Linked DNA regions of Homo sapiens: region 2 is linked to region 1. The links come from fine-mapping of genetic effects on plasma protein levels. Region 1 holds a variant in brackets. A gene starts in the other region. All regions are shown on their forward strands.

What was found. PIP is the posterior inclusion probability: the model's chance that the variant is causal. The UK Biobank Pharma Proteomics Project read protein levels with antibody pairs (Olink). The fine-mapping took linkage between variants from a reference panel, not from the people measured, so its PIPs are less certain.
Region 2: GFRA3 starts here. The variant in region 1 is fine-mapped to the plasma level of the GFRA3 protein (UK Biobank, PIP 0.93).

The regions. Positions count from the first base shown.
Region 1 is chr12:115,300,418-115,312,006 of GRCh38, forward strand. It overlaps LOC124903082 (a long non-coding RNA gene), which reads right to left. Exons shown (of 11, transcript XR_007063592.1): 9 at 10,297-10,481; 10 at 3,358-3,549; 11 at 1-2,595. Among named protein-coding and RNA genes, the nearest start is that of LINC02463, 580 kb to the right of the region's middle. The variant C/T (reference allele first, on the strand shown) is at 6,159.
Region 2 is chr5:138,270,483-138,282,047 of GRCh38, forward strand. GFRA3 (GDNF family receptor alpha 3) reads right to left here and starts at 4,139. Exons shown (of 8, transcript NM_001496.4): 1 at 3,852-4,139. The coding sequence starts at 3,942. RefSeq lists silencers at 3,862-4,051, 4,142-4,231.

The DNA.
Region 1 (11,589 bases):
CACAAACATTTATCAGGCATGTATGATGTGTATATGGGTGGAAATAAAAGAGCTTTCTTCAAGTGTTGACACCAGTATGGAAGATAGGTTTAATTTTGATCCAACTCCCATTGATTGGTCACTGCGACCTGAAACCATGACTTGAGAATATTCTGCTCTCAGAAGGAAGTGATTCTCTGGTTGATTATTGATGCCTGTCACAGGCACAATACCGAGAAATGGGAGCACACTGCCTATTTGACAAAGCTTTTTAGTGCCGCTTTTCTCAAACTGGAATGTGCATGCTAATTAACTGGGATCTTGTTAAATTACAGATTCTAAAATAGCAGGTCTGGGGTAGGGCCTGAGATTTAGTATTTCTAGCAAGATCCCAGGAGGTGCTGATGCTGCTGGGCCAAGGAACTGTCCAGTAGGACCTATCAATAAAGTCATCACATTCTCAGATCTGTCATTCACATGGTCAGATAACTTTATCTAAATCTTTGCACTGAAGAACAAGGAATTCCAGAGTACATTCTGAAAGGACGATTCAAGATCTGGTCTCTGAGTTTTCCAAAATCAAAGGCGGTGGTCCAGTCAGCTCAGACTTGGAACAGGTGTTTCCATGGATTGTCTGGGAGCAAATGAAGGCTCCCAGAGGGTTTCAGGCTCGGCTCAGAACTCCATCCAGAAGTTCAGATGTTTCTCCAAATCAACTCCAAGGCATCTGTCTGTCTCTGGGGGCCTCCTAGGAACTCTGTCTAAAGCTCCAGAAGACCGCATTCCTGGTGAACCTTCAGGCAGCACCACCTCCTTCTTGGCTGAACAGATGATCACTTCAAAGTTCTCCTTTCTTGTGGTATTTTAGTACCTCTGGCCTTGGCCAGAAACCATCAACCCAGAGGCGTATAAAAGTGAAAAAGAAGAGAAGAGAGAAAACATCATTTATCAACTCCCCTACTCACACCTAAATATTGTCAAAGAGTTTTGTTTGGACCAAGTTTGAGTTAGGGTGAAGATCCAATGAGACCTTACAGAGTTTGTTAACTCTTGTTCTATTTCCCCACTTATATCCTCTTATACCAGAAGGAGCAAAAATCACCCACCAAATAGATGGTGTCATATTTACAATCTTCCAGCTGCTCAAAGAACATCTTCTAGCCATGCAGTGAGAGGGGTGACACAATGCACAGGAGACCTATGCTTGGTGGACAGACATACCTCTCCTGAGCAAGGTTGTGTAGAAAAGAGTTAAAGAGCAGATGGGTTGGAAATCACATTTTGGTTTTGAGATCCCAGTTTCACCACTGAAGTACTCCATCTCATACTCTCTCCTGCTCATGGACTATAGTCAAGCTGTACTGTCCATGTTTCTGTTCCTCTAAGGTTGTTCCCACCCCACTGTCTTTGCACCTGCTATTCCTTCCATTTAGAATGATCTTCCACAAATCTTTAAACGGTTGCCTCCCGTGACTTGAGTTGCACCTCATCTACCACCTCTACAGAGAGGTCTTAACTGATCATACCGGCTAAAGGAGTCCACACCACCTCTGGCCATTTTTAAGCACATTGCCCTAATTAATTTATTACATAGCTCTACTCTCTGTCTGAATTTGAATGACAGTTTTTAAAATTTGTTTATATGTTAATTGTCTGTATTTTCCTCTAGAATATAAGCTCCATGAGGGTAGGAATTTGTCTTCTGTTTGCTGGGGTATTTTTATACATCTTGAAGAATTCCTGACACATAGAATGTACTCAATATATATTTATTATTGCTATTGAATAAATGATCTCCCTGGCTAGAGTGATTGGTTTAGGGCTGATCATGTGATTTCACCAGGGTGATGTGATTTTGGCAGGGCCAAAGCTTTTCGGGCTTTTTCTCTTGAGTTAATGGAAAGAGAAGTCACTTTCCACTGGCCACACTAGAGGACTGTGGGTGTTGAGCTAACAGAAGACATTTCACCTACTGGGTGAAGAAAGCCTGCCCAAGAGATGGCTTGAGCCCTGACCACAAAATGTAGATGATGTCTGCAACTAGAAATGTCTACCTTTGGCATCTTCAGCTACAGTGACTCTGTATCCACCATTTCCTCCTCCCCCTATTCAACAGCAATGCAGAAAGCTTAAGTTGCACTGGGTGTCTGTCATTCACAATTGATGCAGTCTAAGCAATCCATGTGGGATTGTGGCTAGATCTACATTAGGTCCTGCTTCTACCACTTCCTAGCTAGAGGACGCTGTAGCAGGTTGAATGCTAGTTCCCCCGAAACATGTTCACCATGTAACATTTGGAAAAAGGCCCTTTTTAGATATAATTACAGATCTCGACAGGAGATCATTCTCAATCATCCAGGTAGGCCCTACATCCAATGATAGTGTCTTTATAGGAGAAATACAAAGGCAAATTGGAGAGACACAGAAGAGAAGGCCATGTGAAGACAGTGGCAGAGATTGGCGTGACACAGATACAAGTCAAAGAATATCTGGAGGCTCAGAAGTTGGAAGTGGCAAGGAATGGCTTCTCTCCTGGAGGTTTTGGGGGATGTGAAGTTCTTCTGACACCTTGATTTTGGCCCAGTGATACTTATTCCAGACTTCTTGCCTCTAGAACTGTGAGAAAACACATCATTTTTGTTGTTTTAAGCCACCAAGCTTGTAGTAAATTGGTACAGCAGCCACAGAAAACTAATACAGATCCCCAAACTCTCTCCTATTTCAATTTCCTTTTCAGGAAAAACAAAACACTGATTTCTCCCAGTTTTCATCAAAGAAGGAATCAAATGGAAATAAAATTAACCTGGGCCCAAATCACAGCTCTGTTCCTCACTAGCTGTGTGACCTCCGGCAGCTCTTGTTTTCTGAGTCATGGTTTTATAATTTGTGAAATGGGTGCATTCATAACCCTCTCCCCATAAAATCTGCAGAAAGGATTAAATGCAGTAATGCCTGTAAACTTTTCTGTGCAGTGCCTAGCACATCATAGATACTCACTGGATTACCAGACTATTCTGGTCATTATATACTTTCATATACGTGCATTTGCTTTGTATCATAGGGGAGTCACTCTAAAAGAAAGTCTTGAACTATTATTTCAGGAAACTTTGAAATGTCTGTGAACAGGATGTTGACATTTTTAGATCAGTGATTTTCAAATGTCGTAGTTAGTTGCTGATAAATTATTCTGAAAGATAGTTAAATACAGAGATCACTGGATTCCTTCAGACGCTTCTTAATTGGGAATTCAAGAAGTAGGGCTGTGAACCTGGATTTTAAACAAGCAGAGCGACATGTGGAAGCCATTCTTTTTAGATTATAATTCCTATTATTATTACTTTGAAAGCAGTTGCTGAAAATGTGCCAGACACAACCTACCCCAGTGAGTGCTGTCCGAGAAGCTGGACCCTGGTCTCCTCTCTCACTCCAAGCCTCTGCAGCCAAGCATACTGTGCACTGGAGGGTTCAGCTGGACAGAGCCTCTCCCCAAGGTGGTTCCCACTGGGACTATATTCAGGGAGTCAGCGAGAGTTTTCTCCAACTCCCACAGACCTTGTGATGTGGTGTTCCCTGTCGGGTGAGACAGAGGGAACATATGTGAGGAACACATATCATAAACAATGGAATCCATAAATCTTGGGCACGTTGTCTGGTTCCTTAATTCCAGTTGCAGAACAACAGTCAGGACCAGGAATTGCAGGCAGATCTGCAGGCTGCCCCAGTCTGCCTTCTGAAGGCCAGTTGCTGCAGAGAGAAGCTCATGTTGGCAAAAGCTTTTTATCTATCTGTGATTTATCACCCTACCTTTTTTTTTAATGGAAGATGCAAAAACTAAATAACTTAAAAGACAGTCTCTAACATTCTTGCCTGTAGCCTTAGGAAGCATAGGCCTTAAGTGATGCTCAGCAAGTTTGTGAAAACCCCAACTGTTTCCCGAGACAAACTTCTTTTGTTTTTTTTTTTGTTTGTTTGTTTTTTGGTGATGAGACATCCATTTCATGGTTTTTTGTTTTTTAATTTCGGTAGTTTTTTGGGGTACAGGTGGTTTTTGGTTACATGGATAAGTTCTTTAGTAGTGATTTCTGAGACTTTAGGACACCCATCACTGAAGCAGTGTACACTGCACCCAGTAGGTAGTCTTTTATCCTTCACCCCCTCCCAAACTTCTCCCCTGAGTCCTCAAAGTCTATTATATCACTCTTATGCCTTTGTGTCCTCATAGCTTAGCTCCCACTTATAAGAGAATACACTATATTTGATTTTCCATTCCTGTGTTACTTCACTTACAATAACAGCCTCCAGCTTCATCCAAGTTGCTATAAAAGACATTATTTCGTTGCTTTTTATGGCTGAATAGTATTCCATGGTGTACATATACCACATTTTCTTAATCCACTCGTTGATTGATGGGCACTTAGCGTGGTTCCATATCTGTGCAATTGCGAATTGTGCTGCTATTAACATGTGTGTGCATGTGCCCTCTTTATGTAATGACTTCTTTTCCTTTGGATAAATACCCAGTAGTTGATTGCTGGATCAAATGGTAGTTCTACTTTCATTTCTTTAAGGAGTCTCCATACTGTTTTCCATAGTGACTGTACTAATTTACATTCCCACCTGCAGTGTAAAAGTGTTCCCTGTTCACCACATGCATGCAAGGCAAACTGTTTGGAAGGAAAGCTGTTCCCTGAGTTCAGATTCTGCTTCTATGTTATCTGCATTTACTTGTTTTCTGGCATTCACAGAGCTAAGAATACAGTAAAGTATTTCCAGCACCTACATCTCTACCTAATTAAAAAAAAAAAAAAAGCAAAGAAACACTGAGACAATGCTTTGTTTCAGGAACAAAAGAAAGTTTGTATACCCTTAGCCTGCATCATTCATTTGTATGCCAGATCTCTGAAAGGAGTTTGTAAAACCTGTTCGACTGAGCTCCTGGTACTGGAGGCCTGCAGACTGGGAGAAAGGACTGGATTCCAACCCCAATCTCGGGACTAGATTCAGTGTGTGGGTTCTGGTGCTGACTGGCTGACTTGAATCCTGGTTCCCTCACTTCCTGAGTAACTGCACCTCAGTTATGTAATCTGTAAAATGGGCACACCTACCCTTACCTCTCACTTAGGGTGGCTGTGGGAGTTGAAAAGGGCTAGTTGAGCATGCAATAAGTTCTACAGATATGAGCTAGTAGCACTATCTTGGGAAGTTTTCCTAATTTCTCTAGGAAGGCTAGACATGCGGCTAATTCTTCCTGACTCAGAGGAGTGTGGTACGGTACTGATGAGACAGCACCTCTTCTGTGTGTAGCGTAGAGCCTGGAACACTTAGGTACTGAACCGAAGTCGGGTGTGTGTTTTCCCATGAATGGGCAGAAGTGGAGCTTGCAAACGCTTTTTTGCAAGAAGTAGCAGTTATCACTGAGTTGCTAATGACTTAAAGAGAAAAGAATCCCCATTACTGAATAGAGAGACATTACACCCAATAACCAATGAGTCAGGGTACGGCATGGGTGTGATGATTGGGGGACTACATGAGAGAATAAACTCTACAGCGAACCCAACAACCCAGAGCCTCAGGCCACACTTTTCCATGCCAGGGTGCTGTCTTCTCAGGCTGCAGACACACAATAAGATGCTGTTCTCACAGTGCCAGATCACAATCTTTGCTGGGAGGGTCTGTTAGCACCATGAACTTGTTCTGTTCTAACAGCCTGTGCTCACCCTTGTCTAGTGATGATTTAATGCTTTAAGCCTCTGAGATCAGGGCCAAAAATAAAATGGTGGGGAAATCAGACACAGCGCTAGATACCAGCAATATATTTAGGGAACAGGAGCATTTGTTCTGCCCATTTTCAAGTTTCCATTTTCTTTTCTTTATGACCTTCTGGCACGTGGTTGAGACATGGAAGCTTCCAGTAGATTACAGGGTGGAATAAAGGTGTTTCCATAAGTAACACTGCAAATATAATTCATTTTACTATTGATCACTGGGAAGATGGCAGTGAACAGAACAGACAAAACATCCCTGCCCTCTTGAAGCTGGCATTCCAGTGGGGTGGAGGGTTTGGGCCAAAGAATGACAGAAGATGAAAGGGCATTTGTCCTCTCCATGTTTTTCTCTAATAAGAGGCCCTAGGCGAAGTTCTGCTGATGATTGTGTAAACTGAGCCTCTTGCACAATCC[C/T]AGTGCAAATCACACTGTGGACGATGTCAGTGGCCCTCCCTAGAGTCATCCATCACCTAACCTGTTTGACCATAAGCTGCAGTCCTGAAGATACAGGGCAGGAGCTAGTGTTGGGTTACATTGAGATGAATACCCAATGCCTCAAATGAGAAACGAAAACATACATAGAACAAAAGGTGCTACCGGTGGGCCCTGCTCTTCTGCTTGCATTCGTCTGAATATCTAACAACAACTGCAGCATCCATCATCTACCGGGAAGCGACAGTGTATCAGAGCCTGTGTCAGGTCACACAGATAACAGGAATTGGGAATCAAGTCATCATGATTAAGCAATTAAAGAGACTCTCTTATTAAACAAAGACCATGGCTAAATATTGAAATTGGGAAAAGGGCTTTTCTTCTCACGGCCTTTGGTTCTACGATTTTTTTTTTTTTAGAGAGATGGGGTCTCATTATGTTAACCAGGCTGGACTCAAACTCCTGGCCTCAAGCCTTCCTCCCACCTGAGCCTCCAGAGTAGGTGGGACTACAGGTGTGTGCCACTATGCCTGTCTTAGTCCTACTATTAACTCTCCTAGAAACACTAGTTTCCACCCTAACTCCTCTCGCTTTCTCCTTCCCTCCTCTCTCTCTCTCTCAAATTCTCCCCATACTCAAACCTACCTCATATGCTGTTTCCAACATGAAACAAAAGCCCCAATGATGCACAAAACAAAGCCTTGTGAATGTCACTCATCCTTGGATTTTTGTAACATCCGCTGCTGGCACCTGACACCCAGTGGAGGCTCAACGACTCTTTTTAGTTTGAAAGAATAACAAGCAGAGAACTTTTTTGGAGCATGTCTTATTCAATTATGTATTTTTTTTTAAAACCCATGACTTTGAATTATGATTCTAGATACTGATATTTATATTTTTTAAGCCCCAAGTTTTTTGTATCATTAGAACAAAGTTTAGTTGTAACAGAGTCTCAAACTAACAGCAGCATACCCCCAGTAGAAGTGTCCTGCTCTCTCATATATAAATCTGAAGGGAAGAAGTCTAGAGCTAATGGGAGGCTTTTGCAGGTCAAGTCCCCAGAGGCCAAGGCTCCTTCCAGATTTTGGCCCTGCCTTCCTTAGGATGTGGCCCAGGTTCATGTAATCCAAGTCGACTGCCAGGACTGTCATCATGCTATTCACCTTCCAACCAGCAGGAAGGAGAAAGGAACAACAAATGAAAACAAACAAATAAATAAACAAGGGTCTGAGCTAGCTGTCTTTTTAGGAAAGATATTATAATGTACTGGCCAAAGCTTAGATATATGGCCAAATCTAGTGACAAGGGAGGCTGTAGTCTTTATTCTCAGGGACTGTATGTCCAACTCAAATGATGTATATGTGCTTTTTTTGGTTGCTATTCTAATTCTTCCTTCTCCGAAATGAGGAAGCTAGTCTGGCTAGGAACTTGCCATGAGGGTATAGCAGCAGGAACCCTCATTTATATCCCAAACCAAGCCCTCATTTATATCCCAAACCTAGCCCTGCTAGAAAGCTCAGCATTTGGTGCCATTGAATGTTGGCTAGGTTATTCATTCATATCCGTTATTAATAAAGCAGTGGCCTGCTTCCTGCTTGGCGGGTATTCCTTATGTGAAAATCTCCCTCTGTTAGGACCCTTTTAGGGAGAAGAGGTGAATGGCAAAGCACTGTGATCTCAAGCTTTGCACCATTAGCCCATAATTGAAACCTCATCCCCACCTCTAATAGGCCCTACATTGTGTAATGCGCTATGTAGAGCTGCTGTCATTCATTCATCACAAAATCCACATGTGATTTTTGTTATCCCCACATTACAGAAGAGGAAGCAGAGATGCTGAAGGTAGACTATCTTTCTCAAGCTCACTGTGCTCTCTCAGAAGAGGCAGAACACAGGCTCCAAAGCCAGTCTCTTGACTTCAGCCACTAATTTAACTCCAGCTACATTTTATCCCCTCTTCTCTCATTTTTCCCTTGTTTTAACTTCTTCATGAAATTACATATTTTATTTTTGCATTTCGTTTAATCTCACTTTATTGTTCTTGTTTTTATTGTTATTTTTATAATCCCACTAAATTCTTACCAGAACAATGAAAAACATGAATTGTCCCATATCATTGTGGATGCCCATGTCTTCCCCACTGAACTCTGAGTTCTCTGAATTCCGTGACTGGGCCTTTCTTTCTGCAACCTCGGTACCTCCTCCCAGCCTTGGCACATGGTTGGCTCTCAGTCCATACTGGAAAAAAGGATGCAGTTCCACCTCCACCTCCTTCTCCAGACCTAGCCAGCAAGTTGGAATTCCAGTCCCTGGTGGGACAGTCATTGGTTTTTTGAGCAATCTCTGGCTGGTTGAGGATGGGTTTTCTTTGATCTGTCTGGGTGATCTCTGGGGACTAATGAAGCCAAGCTGGGCCAGCAGATTTGGTCAGCATCTGGGACCATGGTTCCATGTGGTAATTGGAACATGACTCCAAAGGAACTGTGTCCATCATGCCTGGACCTATTATTTCATTATGGTGACTGAGCTTCCGGAATATTGCAACCCCTGCCTTACCACACCATGTCTTTCTGTGGGAGAGTCTTTCATCATTGTTTCCCATGGTGTCCAGTCTGAGTATCTCAAAATAACTTGCCTTTATTGGCTGTTGTTCAATAAGTTAATCTGTACTCATTCATTTGATCTTGGCAATAACCCCTTGAGCTAGAAACTAATATTATCTGCCTGTTATGGATGAGAAGACCAACACATGTAATGAGGGCAGTTAGCTTTCTCAAGGGCACACACTGGCAGAGCTGGGGCTCAAATTCCAGTGTTTCAGCCCCAGAACCCGGACTCTTAACCACTCCATTATATGGAGGCAACCAAAACATGGTAGCCACACAGGTGTAGAGCATACTGTCATGCTCAGCATGCTTCCTCGCAATGTAGCATTGACCATATGGGAGGCACAAATTACCAACATGTGGGCCTTTCTTGACCAGTGTCGTGCTACTCTGAAATGATAGAAGATATGAAGTTGGTTGTCAACTGTAGTGTTTTGACTTACACACACTTAGGTCTGGTTTTTAGCTCTGTAACTGGGTGAGGCAGCATCTTTCAAGCTATCTGTCCACCTTCTAATGCCACCTTAACTGAGTTCTTCACCCACAGTGATCAATCCCCACGAGGCCGTATTATATCATATGACCCCATCCACCTGCAGCCTCTGATATGTGACTAGGATTAAACACTTGACAGAAGCTAAGCCAATAGAAATTTTGTGCCCAGGATTCTGAGAGGGAGAGTTGCTCTATTTATCTATTTAGATGTCTTTTTTTTTTTTTTTTTTGAGACAGGGTCTTGCTCTGTCACACAAGCTGGAGTGCAGCGACGTAATCATAGCTCATAGCAGCCTCAAACTTCTGAGCTCAAGGGATCTTCCTGCCTCAGCCCCCTGAAGAGCTGGGACCACAGGTATGAACCATAATGTCCACCTAATCTTGTTACTATTTATAGTGACAGGATCTTGCTATGTTGCCCAGGCTGAACCTAAACTCCTGGGCTCAAGCGATCCTTCTGCCTCACCCTCTCAAGATGCTGGGATTACAGGCATGAGCCACTGTGTCTGGCCTATTTTTGTGTTTTAATCTTTAATATGAAAGTTTGGTGGTGGTCATCTTTGATCACTCTACACATGAGAAAAAGAAAGCTATGAAGCTAAGGGGCAGATAAGACAGTAAACGTAAGCCACATTTTTCTAGCTGTTCATTCTTGCCCCTTCCCAAAATCCACCTGCCCCTCTATCTTTGGTAGACCATCTAGTGCTTTATTTTTCCCTTGAGATAGCCTCTGGATTTTATTACTTGTAACCGAAAAGACACAACCTCTGTTCGCTCCACCTGGAACATAAATTTCTAAGCTTTTTGCAATGTTAACTCCTTATGTAATTCAGCTTCTAAGTTTTGCCTCAAATCCACCATTTACATGGAGTTCTTAAAGCACTGTAATTACTTAATAATATTTAATAGTGAATGGATAAATGAAATCTTACCAATACTTAACGTTACTTTGAGAAAATTCATTCACATCTCTGAACCTCAGTTTCCCCAACTGTGAAACAGAAGCATAGAGAGCCAACCTCAACAAGGCAGCTGCGGAGACTGAAAATAAGGTGTGCAAGGTGCCCGGCACAGAGGAAACACTCAGTGAACAGCAGCCACTCTGGACAATGATCTGCAGGCATCCCCAGTGATAGGCAATTGATTCCTGCCCCAGGTAATGTCCTCTTTCTATGTCTTGGCTCGAACCTCCAGCAGGGTGAGACTGTGGAAAAAGGAATAATCTGAAATTAGATTTGCCCCTATGATTCCCAAATCAGAATCCATTTTCATTTGATGTCTCTATGCCCTGAGTAGAGCAGCTGTGCCGGGGATTAAATAAGGGGGACAGATCTGTCTTCTAAAGAAAGGAGAATTTTCCATACTGGTCTGTCAGGATATTTGCTTTCCCACTGTTTGTCTGGGTTGGATCCCAGATTTGCTGTCACACTGGCCTCCTCCCTTGCAATAGCCAGAGATCATATTAAGCGTCCACTCATGGAATTGAGAGGAGAGATAGAAATGCATTAGTGTCAAGATCTCCAGGGTGCATCTAAAATAAATATGATTCCTCTCTTCCCACTCCTCACACCATATGCGGGGGACACCCAGTGTTTATTTTTCAGCTGCGCCAGCCAGTCTGGAAGAGGACACCATGGAAATGGGAGAAAAAGGATCAGGGTGGTGTAACATATCACTGGGGGAAGTTTAGGGCCCATCACTCAACAAATAACAAGTCAACAACCCCTGTCGCTTGGATATCCCCTGTGAAAGCTGCATCACCCTGTTTCACAATAACTTTAATCTGACTGTGTAAATTCAAGAAGTTCCCATGGCTTGTAAATGACTGGCACAAAGTGGCCCGTTAAAATAATTCAGGTTCTTTGCAAAGAAAAAAAAATGGGGGCAGCTTTAAAATAAACCACAATGCATAAGTCACCAATATGTCAGATGTTGGTGGAAACCAGCAAACTAAACTTATATTGTGAGGCCATACACAATTTTTTTCTTTAATCAGCCTGCTTTCCTCTCATGGGTGATTGGAGCTAAATTTTATAATGTGGTAGAAAAGACGCATTGGTGTTAACTTAATGTGGAGTTAACTTGTAGTACATTATGTAACTTCGGGCAAGTAACTTTTACGTGAAACTCAGATTGCCCATCTAGAAAATGAGAAAATTGGACAGTAGGTAGGAGAGTATATATTTGGCTCACAGGTCATAACTCTCTATTGTCGCATCCACAACAGACATCACTAGTCACTCATTTTATTTATTTTTCCTGTTGAACCCAGATGAGGTCTCAGGATTTATCTCAGCTGAGAGTTTCAGGGA
Region 2 (11,565 bases), not on the chromosome of region 1:
TTCTCACTGATATGTGGGAGCTAAGCTATGAGGATACAAAGGCATAAGAATGATACAATGGACTTGGGGACTTGGGGGGAAGCGTGGGGGAGGGGAAGGGATAAAAGACTACAAATAGGGTGCAGTATATACTTCTTGGGTGATGGGTACACCAAAATCTCATAAATCAGCACTAAAGAACTTACTTATGTAACCAAACACCACCTGTATGTACCCCAATAACCTATGGAAAAGAAAAAGTATATCAGAATTTCTCTAGGAAATATGTATTTCCAAAAAGCATATTTGATAATTTTACATGTACAAGATGAAAAAAAAAGCTTTTGAGATTTCAAAAAGTATTTAAGGAAGGTATGAGATTTTATATATTTACCAAAAGGGGAACATGGATTTAAAAAGATTGAGGAATTTCTACAAGTTTACGATGTTACTTCCGGTAGGTACTGAATAAGTGGTAAGTACACAAAGAAAAGTGGCAGATTCAAGTTCTATTGTTGTAACTGGACTAAAAATAATTTTTTTTTTTTGAGGTGGAGTTTTGCTCTTGTTACCCAGGCTGGAGTGCAGTGGCGCGATCTCGGCTCACTGCAACCTCTGCCTCCCGGGTTCAAGCGATTCTCCTGCCTCAGCCTCCCAACTAGCTGGGATTACAGGTATGCCCCACCATGCCTGGCTAATTTTGTATTTTTAGTAGAGATGCGATTTCTCGATGTTGGTCAGGCTGATCTTGAACTCCCGACCTCAGGTGATCTGCCCGCCTCGGCCTCAACAAAGTGCTGGGATTACAGGCATGAGCCACTGTGCCCGGCCATAAATATTTAACTGTACTAACTATTGAGTTGTAAACATTTTCAAAAGAAAACAATTTCTTAGTTGACACTTTACCAAGTTTGAGCAGTGATGGATTTAGGGGCATTCATCTCAACAAAGAACTTGGGGGCCACGTTAAATTTCATCTCAACAAGGTGGAACCTGTGTTTCCTGGATTGTGAAACACAGGACTTGATCCAGGGCAAAGGTCATAATTTGATCCAGTGTGCAAATGTGTCTTTTTTAGTCAGCATAGTTCCGTTCCTTTCTTTTTCTTTCTCCTTTCTCCTTTTCTTTTCTTTCTTTTAATCTCTGTCACCCAGACTGGAGTGCAGTGGTACAATCGCCACTCACTGCAGCCTACAGTCTCGACCTCCCAGGCTCAGGTGAATTCTCCCACCTCAGCCTCCCAAGTAGCTGGGACTGCATGCATGCACTACCACGCCCAGCTAATTTTGTATTTTTTGTAGAGATGGGTTTTCACCATGTTGCCCGGGCTGGTCTCGAACTCTTGAGCTCAAGCAATCCACCCACCTTGGCCTCCCAAAATGCTGGGATTATAGGCGTGAGCCACCATTCCCGGCAGTATTTTCTTTTCTGTTTTTTTTTTTTTTTTTTTTTTGTGTGTGTGTGTGTGTGTGTGTGTGTGTGTGGTTTGGTTGTTTTATTTGTTTGTTTGGTTGGTTTTTTTTGCACGTTCACAGTATTTTCTTTTTCTTTTTTTTTTTTTTGAGACGGAGTCTCGCTCTGTCACCCAGGCTGGAGTGCAGTGGCGCGATCTCAGCTCACTGCAAGCTCCACCTCCCAGGTTCACGCCATTCTCCTGCCTCAGCCTCCCGGGTAGTTGGGACTACAGGCGCCCACCAGCATGCCTGGCTAATTTTTTCTATTTTTTAGTAGCGACGGGGATTCACTGTGTTAGCCAGGATGGTCTCAATCTCCTGACCTCGTGATCTACCCGTCTCAGCCTCCCAAAGTGCTGGGATTACAGGTGTGAGCCACTGCACCCAGCCAGTATTTTCTTAAAGTTGTAATTAGTGGCCAACATTTAAAAATCAGATTTTAGGCCGGGTGCGGTGGCGCACACCTTTAATTGCAGCACTTTGGGAGGCCAAGGTGGGCAGACTGTTTGAGCCCAGGATTCAAGATCAGCCTGGGCATCCGAGATGGCAAAAACCCGTCTCTACAAAAAATACAAAAATTAACCAGGTGTGGTGGCACACTACTACAGTCCCAGCTACTGGGGAGGCTGAGGCAGAAGGATTACTTGAGTATGGGAGGTTGAGGCTGCAGTGAACTGGAATCACACCACTGAACTCCAGCCTGGGTGACAGATTGATACCCTGTCTCAAAAAAAAAATCAGATTTCAAATAAAACTATTAATTTCCAATTTGTCTTGAAAAATGGAAACACTCGGGCCCACATGTAACGGGTGGAGTAATGACTGCCCCCTTTTGACAAGTCATGCCTTTTCCAGCTTGTTATAGTCCATACCACTTTCTATTACTTGCCCCACCTCCTCATTTATACAGCCACTGCCACGTCTATTTCATATTGATTTGTTAGCAACCTGGTTTTGTAACTTTGTTTTCTGCTTCTTGGCTCATCAGAGAATGAGTAGCTACAGAATGGGTCAGATCAGGCTATGCCTCAGGGCACAAGATCCTCATTTGTTTCTCATCAGTGAGGCCCACAACCCAGGTATCCATTTTATAGTTGGATGAACAAAGAAAAGTAATGTGCACCAGGGGATGTAGCAAGTCAAGACCGAGTCAAGGCTAGAACCCAGGACTCCAGCCTCCTATCCACTTCAGAATGATTTTCAGTACATGACACCACTTCCCCATGAATCGGAGGTCTCCTATATGCTTGGCTTTAGCAGGCCCTGAGCAATGATATTTTCCACCCCCAAAGCCCTCTGTTGGTCTGTGCTCTTGAAGAGCACTTGGCTCTACATGGTACCTCCTAGATGACTGTTTTATGGATTTTCAATGAGGCTACTTAACCAGATGTCATTGCTGTCAAGTATTACTGTGGAAAATAGATCTGTCACCAACACTGCTTCATTAAACCATTTAATGAGAAAGGTGTTTAATGTTTTCCCCTGATCCTGACATGCAGCCATAACCTTTAGGATTAGTGAAATTTCCTGGGCAGTCAAATCAGACTGGTGATGTCTTGCTGCCCTGACTTACTGATGTTGGCAGGTGGACAGACCAGGGTTTTTCCTCCTTCCTTCCATATCTGTCTCAAGGCAGCATTTCTACAGCACTGCGTTGTGGACTGAGGTCTCAGGGCAGTGTGGTGGTCTCTCTGTCTCAGGAGTCCCTCCATTCAGTCTCTGGGCAGGAGCCGCATAATAAGATTCCACACACCCATACCACTCACGAAGGCCATGGGCCTTCCAGGGATCTCGGATCCCAGGCTGTTCTTCCTTGGGGGAGTGGCCTGGTTCTAAAACCAGGCCTTGAACTACATCTACAAAACATCTATTGTGGATTATTTATTATCCAAGGGGCAAGCCACTGTGCTAGACGGCTTGCAAGGCCTGCTATTGTAGAAGGTTATGAAACAAGTCAGTTTTAACGAACTTCTTTTTCTTCACCTGTACCTAGTTTCTTCCTCAGTCCTTAAAGCAGATGGAAGAGTTAAAGCCCACGTGGAGCAAATGACACTCTGTTTCTGATCTGATTCTCCCCGCCTCTTAGAGACGCTGTCTTGGTAGTGACCTGGCTGTGGGTTGTTCTGTGACTGTGTAGACCTACCTCAAAAGAGGGAAGAGGGGGGAAAAAGGGGCGAGGAGGAGATGCTTGGGTGGCCAGGCCATTGCTGGCACTCAGTCTATCTCAGTTCGTACACTGTGTTAGGTGTGACCCCAGCCCCTTGCAGGCACCCTGGGCTTCCTGCTCCAGTTCCCCTTGTTCGGCTCGGATGCACCGGGAGGCTGCTGCGCCCTCTCCGGACAGGTGCCCCGGGCCTCGCCTACACCTCACCTCCCCCTCCCACTGTACCCCCGGCCGGTGCGCGCTCTGACACTCACCGGCTGCGAGAGGCAGCGGCGACGGCGGCAGCAGCAGCAGCAACATCAGGACTACGGGCGGCAGCGGTCGCGGGTTCAGGGGGCGCACCATGGCGAGCTGTAGGCGCCGGGCTCCGCGCTCCCCTCGCTCCTCCCCTGGAGCTCTGAGAGCGGGGCTCCCTCGACCGGCACCTCCCGCCCCCGCCTCCCGCCCTCCAGCGCGACGCACACACTCTCCCACCAGGGTCCTGGGCGCCGCCCTCCAACTCCGAAGCGCGCGTCCACACCACGCGCCTCCAGCGCTGGTCCGAGGGACCGCGGGGGTGGGGGCGGGGGAGGGCCGGCGCCCCGGGAGCCGCCGGGCTTGGTGCGGAAGAGGTTGCTCTTTCCGAGGCGGCCCACCTGCTGTCTGACAAGTTCGACTAGCAAGACATTGTGGAAGCTGCCGCTGGAAACTCGCCATCTAGGAGAACCAAATATTTCTCCAAGAAAAGCACCCTTTCTCACTTTCTGGATCCCACTCACCCACACATCAAAGAACAGACACCACCACAAAAGAGATTTTGTAACAAAACTTGAACAAGCCAACACAAGGGCACTTGCATTTCTAGTATTTTTCTTAGAATTTGCACATCTATGATCTCGTTTTTTCCTCTCCTAAGTGTCTTCTAGGGTAAGATTGGGTGGTTATTAAGCTCAAGATGCTGCAAAGATGGGTCGCAGACAGGTGGAATGGCTTTGCTGGGGGAGCAGACCTGGGGCATTAGATTCCAAAATTCAGCCCCGATGGTGTCGTGAGGGAAGATGGAAGATTAAACTCTCCACTAAATAGCAGAGATTTCCTTGGACCAAAGCTCACTGAGGAAGGTGCCTGGAGAGACCATTTAGGAGCCCATCCTTTTCACATGATGAGACTTTCGGAGAGCAAGCTACTCTATCAGGATTAAACAACTAGGTAGAAACACATCTGTGCCCAGAACACAGGACGTCTACCCATAAGGATAAGGGTATTTATTGGGCCTGGGCCTGATTCCCACAAGATCCCAGGATAAAGCCAGAAGCAGAATGGCTTGGAAGAATGAGAACTAAGCAGCGCATAGAAAGAGAGAAGGAGAAGAGGGTGATGAAAGGAAGTGGAGGGTTTCATCCCCTAACCCTCTAACTTGACCCCCTCCTTACTTCCACAGCCAGCCTGGCAGAGGGCCAGCAGGGAGTACTGAGAATCGCAATATAAACCTCTGAGATTTATTGGCTGCTGCTTCTGAATATGGCCATCCTGCTGTGGCCTCTGGGGGGCATTTGCCGATGTAATCAGCCCAGAAAGAGAGTCATTCCAGCTGGGGGTGTAAATCACCCTTGGCAAAGCTAGGAGAGAGACATGTGGCCCTAGATAAGGAAGGAGACTGATGTGGCCTCTGTGCCCTTCCCTCCCTTCTCCTGCCCAGGGGGTGCTGGTTCCTGAGCTGTAATGCACTTTAAATGGAGTTTGTCCTTCGTTTTAATCTATATCTGCCCTGCCAGTTTTACAGAAGAGCTGTAAAAGTGAACATCTGGCTACTCAGCTTTTGTACAAGGCCTGTTTTCCCCCAGCTCCACCCTATCTCCATGTGCCTTTCCCAAGCCCTCCTCTCCAGAAAGGTGAGGGAACATGAAGCTGGGGGGCTACCATTAAAGGCCCCATGATGTCAGGCCCTCTACCCCATTGCCAGAGAGAAATATGCTCCAGGCACCTCATTTTCTCTCACACCTGCTATTACAGGCAGACAATCGTTTTTTGGGTTTTTTTTTTTGAAACTGACAATACTTAAGAAAGGAATTTATAAAGCAAAATGTAACAATTTCAGGCTCTTTGGGATGATAGGAAAGGGCTGAGACCCATGAACCAACAAAGATGTGAGGTGGTCAAGGGGTGTCTCCTCTGCCCTCCCCCTCCTCCAGCCCAAGCCAAATCATGTTATGGGCAGGAAGAGGGTTTGGGAAAGGAAGTTTGCTCAGGGTGCCTACTCTGATAGATACTCAGTGTCTATTCCAGGGCTGTCCCCACAGAATAGACCAAGAATGCAGTATCAAGCTGACGGGCTGGGAGCAATGACCAATCCCACCTGTAACAGGCCAGCCTTTTCATGAGAGAAAATAAAGTGTCTGGTGCATATTTCTGTCTGGGTACAGGGGTGGAGAGCCTCATATCATTGGGCCTTTAATGAGGATTGGAGAAGCTCTGCAAATAAATATGACTCCAAGACTAATATTGACAGCCCTCCAGCACACCCTCTCCACCAACCATGTCCTCTGTGACTGCCAACACCTGCTAGATAAGCAGCATTGCCCCTTGTGGACAATGACAAATGAGCCAGTCCTTTCTACAGAGATGATGTTACTCATCCATCATTCAATTCAATAATGTGTTTTGAGAATGATTATGAGCCCAGCTTTATGCTAGGTGCAAAATGATTAAGACACAAATCCTGCTCGGGGAGGGTGTTACAATCCACTGATTGCAACTCAAATGCCCAAAGACCCTGTATCTTATTCCACTTTCACTTGTAATCTCAATTTTCTCCTCTTATGGTCAGATTACATGGATTCTACCTTCTCTCAAGTCCTCTCTCTCTCCATTGAGCTTTAATTCCTGCTGCTATCCTAATCCAGGATGTTAGCAGTATAATAAATAGTTAAGACCACAAGCTTTACAGACTGCCTAGATTCAAATGCCGACACTAGCTGGATGACCTTGGGCAAGTCACTTAATTTTTCTGTGCTTCCATTTCTTCACCTGTAAAATTAAGGATAATAGTATCTATTTCACATTGTGAGGATTAAATGAGTATAGTATTTAAATGAAGGTGTAGGCTGGGCGCGGTGGCTCACGCCTGTAATCCCAGCACTTTGGGAGGCCAAGGTGGGCGGATCACGAGGTCAGGAGTTCAAGACCAGCCTGGCCAATATGATGAAACCCCATCTCTACTAAAATTACAAAGATTAGCCGGGCATGGTGGCACATGCCTGTATTCCCAGCTACTCGGGAGGCTCAGTGGGGCAGAAGAATTGCTTGAACCCAGGAGGCGGAGGTTGCAGTGAGCCAAGATCATGCTATTGCACTCCAGCCTGGGCAGTAGAGCGAGACTCCGACTCAAAAAAAAAAAAAGAAAAGAAAAAAAAAGGTGTAGCATTATACCTGGCATATAGCAAGCATCGAATAAATATCATCCCAGGTAGCATGCAGGAGTTAATTATTCTGTGTGTGAACTTGGCCAGACCCCACCACCCGACCTGCTGATTTGGAGCTGGAAGTGGCACTTTTTGCTCCTTTTGCTGAATATACTACTAGACCAGAGTGCTTGTAGGGATGGAAACAAAAAGAGCCATTTTTTATTTTTCTACCTTGTCAATTTCTTGAGGGCAGGGACTGTGTCATATTTTAACAACTGTGATACTCAGAATTGGCAACTCCAGATGCATATGTTTAAAGGAATTGGTGTTTCCTTAACCTATGCCTGAACAGAACAGGGAGAGAATCCCCCATGCCTCCTACTTTATACTCCTGATAAAGAAAGGGAAATATTCCTCCTTAATATAGTTTGGATATTTGTCCCCACCCAAATCTCATGATGAAATGTAATCCCTAATGTTGGAGGTGGGGCCTGGTGGAGGTGTCTGGATCATGGGGGTGGATCCTTCATGAATGGCTTGGGCCATTCTCTTGGGGATAAGTGAGCTGTCACTGAGTTCACAAGAGATCCAGTCATTTAAAAGTGTGTGGCACCTCCTCCCATAACTCCCTCCCTCTCTTGCTCCTGCTCTGGATATGTGACATGTCTGCTTCTCCTTCACCTTCTGACATGATTGTAAGCTTCCAGAGGCCTACCCAGGAGCTGAGCAGATGCCAACACCATGCTTCCCATAAAGCCTGCAGAACCATGAGCTAATTAAGCTTCTTTTCCTTATAAATTGTTCAGTCTCCCAGGCAAGCATGGTGGTCAGCCAGGCATGGTGGTGTCGGCCTGTAGTCCCAGCTACTTGGGAGGCTAAGGCAGAGGTTGCAGTGAGCCAAGATCATGCCACCACACTATAGCCTGGGTGACACAGTGAGACCCTGTCTCCAAAAAAAAAAAAAAGCCGGGCGCGGTGGCTCACGCCTGTAATCCCAGCACTTTGGGAGGCCGAGATGGGCGGATCATGAGGTCAGGAGATTGAGACCATCCTGGCTAACACGGTGAAACCCCATCTCTACTAAAAATGAAAAAAAAAAATTAGCCTGACGTGGTGGCGGGCACCTGTAGTCCCAGCTACTCGGGAGGCTGAGGCAGGAGAATGGCATGAACCCAGGAGGCAGAGCTTGCAGTGAGCTGAGATCATGCCACTGCACTCCAGCAGGGGTGACAGAGCAAGACTCTGTCTCAAAAAAAAAAAAAATTACCCAGTCTCAGGTATTTTTTTTCTTTTTCTTTCTTCCTTTTTTTTTTTTTTTTTTTGAGACAGGGTCTCACTCTACTGCCCAGGCTGGAGCACAGTGGTGCAATCATGGCTCACCACAGCCTCAACTTCACATGCTCTAGTGATCCTCCCACTTCAGCCTCTCAAGTAGGTGGGACTACAGGTGCACACCACCACACCTGGCTAATTTTTAAAAATTATTCGTAGAAGGCCAGACGCAGTGGCTCATGCCTGTAATCCCAGCACTTTGAGAAGCCAAGGCAGGTGGATCACCTGAGGTCAGGAGTTTGGGACTAGCTTGACCAACATGGTGAAACCCTGTCTCTATTAAAAATACAAAAAAATTAGCCAGGCATGGTGGCAGGCGCCTGTAATCCCAGCTACTTGGGAGGCTGAGACAGGAGAATCACTTGAACCCGGGAGGCGGAGGTTGCAGTAAGCCAAGATTGTGCCATTGCACTCCAGCCTGGGCAACAAGAGCAAAACTCCATTTTTTTTTTTTGAGACGGAGTTTCGCTCTTGTTGCCCAGGCTGGAGTGCAACGGCGCGATCTCGGCTCACTGCAACCTCCGCCTCCCAGCTCTCAGGTTCAAGTGATTCTCCTGTCTCAGCCTCCCAGGTAGCTGGGATTACAGGCACATGCCACCATGCCCGGCTAATTTTTGTATTTTTAGTAGAGATGGGGTTTCATCATATTGGTCAGGCTGGTCTCGAACTCCTGACCTCAGGTGAGCCGCCCGCCTTGGCCTCCCAAAGTGCTGGGATTACAGGCGTGAGCCACCGCACCCAGCGAAACTCCATCTTAAAAAAAAAAAATTCTTCGTAAAGACAGGGTTTCACCATGTTGCCCAGATGGTCTCAAACTCCTAGGCTCAAGTGATCCTCCAGCCTCAGTTTCCCAGTGTTAGGATTACAGGGTATTTCTTTATAGCAAAGGAAGAATGGCTTAATACATTCCCTTCTCTATGGCAGAGGTCACCCAGGTCCTGGGCTGAGATTGACAAGAAGCAATTGCAAAAAAAAAATTTATGTATATTTTTTGAGACAGAGTCTCCCTCTGTCACTTAGGTTGGAGTGCAGTGGTGCAATCTCAGCTCACTGCAACCTCCACCTCCCGGGTTCAAGCAATCCTCCCACCTCAGCCTCCTGAGTAGCTGGGACTACAGACATGCACCACTGCACCTGGCTAATTCTTAAATTTTCTGTAGAGACAGAGGTCTGACTATATTGCCCAGGCTGGTCTCAAACTCCTGGATTCAAGCAATCCTCCCACCTCAGCCTCCCAAAGTACTGGGATTATAGGCTTAAGCCACCGCACCTAGCCCAAGAAGCAGGTTTTTGTTTGTTTTTGATACAGAGTCTTGCTGTTGTCACCCAGGCTGGAGTGCAATGGTGTGATCTTAGCTCACTGCAACCTCCACCTCCCAGGTTCAAGTGATTCTCCTGCCTCAGCCTCCTGGTAGCTGGAATTACAGGTGCCTGCCACTACTCCTGGCTAATTTTTTTTTTTTTTTTTTTTGAGACAGAGTCTCCGTCACCAGGCTGGAGTGCAGTGGCCCAATCTTGGCTCACTGCAACCTCCACTTCCTGGGTTCAAGCACTTCTCCTGCCTCAGCCTCCCGAGTAGCTGGGTATTTTTAATAAAGACGGGGTTTCACCATGTTGGCCAGGATGGTCTCGATCTCCTGACCTCGTGATCTGCCCACCTTGGCCTCCCAAAGTGCTGGGATTACAGGTGTGAGCCATCATGCCTGGCCTGTTTGTATTTTTAGTAGAGATGGGGTTTCACCACATTGGCCAGGCTCCTCTCAAACTCTTGACCTCAGGTGATCCACCCTCCTCAGGCTCCCAAAGTGTTGGGATTATAGGCATGAGCCACAGCGCCCAGCCTCGAGAAGCAGTTTTTAGCTCAAAACATTTCTGTTCAATATTTCTTTACCTCCTGATGAATAAATACCAGTGCAAGGACACCAATGCCGAGCACACCCCCTACATAGCCTCATACTGAGGTCTCTGGGCTGGGGTTTTAGTGCCTGCTCATATCCTTATCTCTCAAGCCAAAGCAACCCTTATGGCCCTAAATTCTCAAGAGCTTACCATTGAGGCTCTTATAGATTTAACACCCAATACAGGGCCAACTCTGGAAAGGCACAGTGGTTTTTTTTTTTTAGACAGGGTCTTGCTGTCATCCAGGCTAGAGTATAGTGGATGGATCATAGTTCAATGCAACCTCAACCTCCTGGGCTGAAGCCATCCTCCTGCCTGACCCTCCCCAGTAGCTATGACTACAAGTGTGCACCACCATGCCCAGCTAAGTTGATTTTTATTCTATAGAGATGGGGTCTTGCTATGTTGCCCAGGCTGGTCTTAAACTCCTGGTCTCAAGGGATCCTCCCACTTTGGCCTCTTAAAGTGCTAGGATTACAGATGTGAGTCACTGCACCTGGCCAGGCACACTGTTCTTTGATGAAGGTTTGGTAACAGCAAAATCCATGAAGTGGACAGGCTCTGGAGCCATACTGTCTTGGGTCAAATCCCTACTCCACCATTAATTAGCTTTGAGATCTTATTACTTGACTAGGTGCAGTGGCTCACGCCTGTAATCTCAGCACTTTGGGAGGCTCCAATTGAAGACTAGAGCTCAGATTGCCTCCATGAAAGTTAGAAGGGAGAGGGCTGGGTGCGGTGGCTCACAACTGTAATCCCAGCACTTTGGGAGGCTGAGGCCGATGGATCATGAGGCCAGGAGTTCGAGACCAGCCTGGCCAACATGGTGAAACCCCTTCTCTACTAAAGATACAAAAAATTAGCCGGGCATGGTGGTACATGCCAGTAGTCCCAGCTACTCAGGAGGCTGAGGCAGAATCGCTTGAACCTGGGAGGCAGAGGTTGCAGTGAGCCGAGATCGCGCCACTACACTCCAGGTTGTTAACAGAGCGAGACTGTGTCTCCAAAAAAAAAAAAAAAATTCAAATTAGAAAAAAAAATGCAGGCCAGGCGCGGTGGCTCACGCCTGTAATCCCAGCACTTTGGGAGGCCGAGGTGGGCGGATCATGAGGTCAGGAGATCAAGACCATCCTGGCTAACATGGTGAAACCCCGTCTTAACTAAAAAATAAAAAAAAAATTAGCCGGGCATGGTGGTGGGTGCCTGTAGTCCCAGCTACTCGGGAGGCTGAGGCAGGAGAATGGTGTGAACCCAGGAGGCGGAGCTTACAGTGAGCCGAGTTCACGCCACTGCACTCCAGCCTGGGCGACAGAGTGAGACTCCGTCTCAAAAAAAAAAAAAAAAAAAAAGAAAA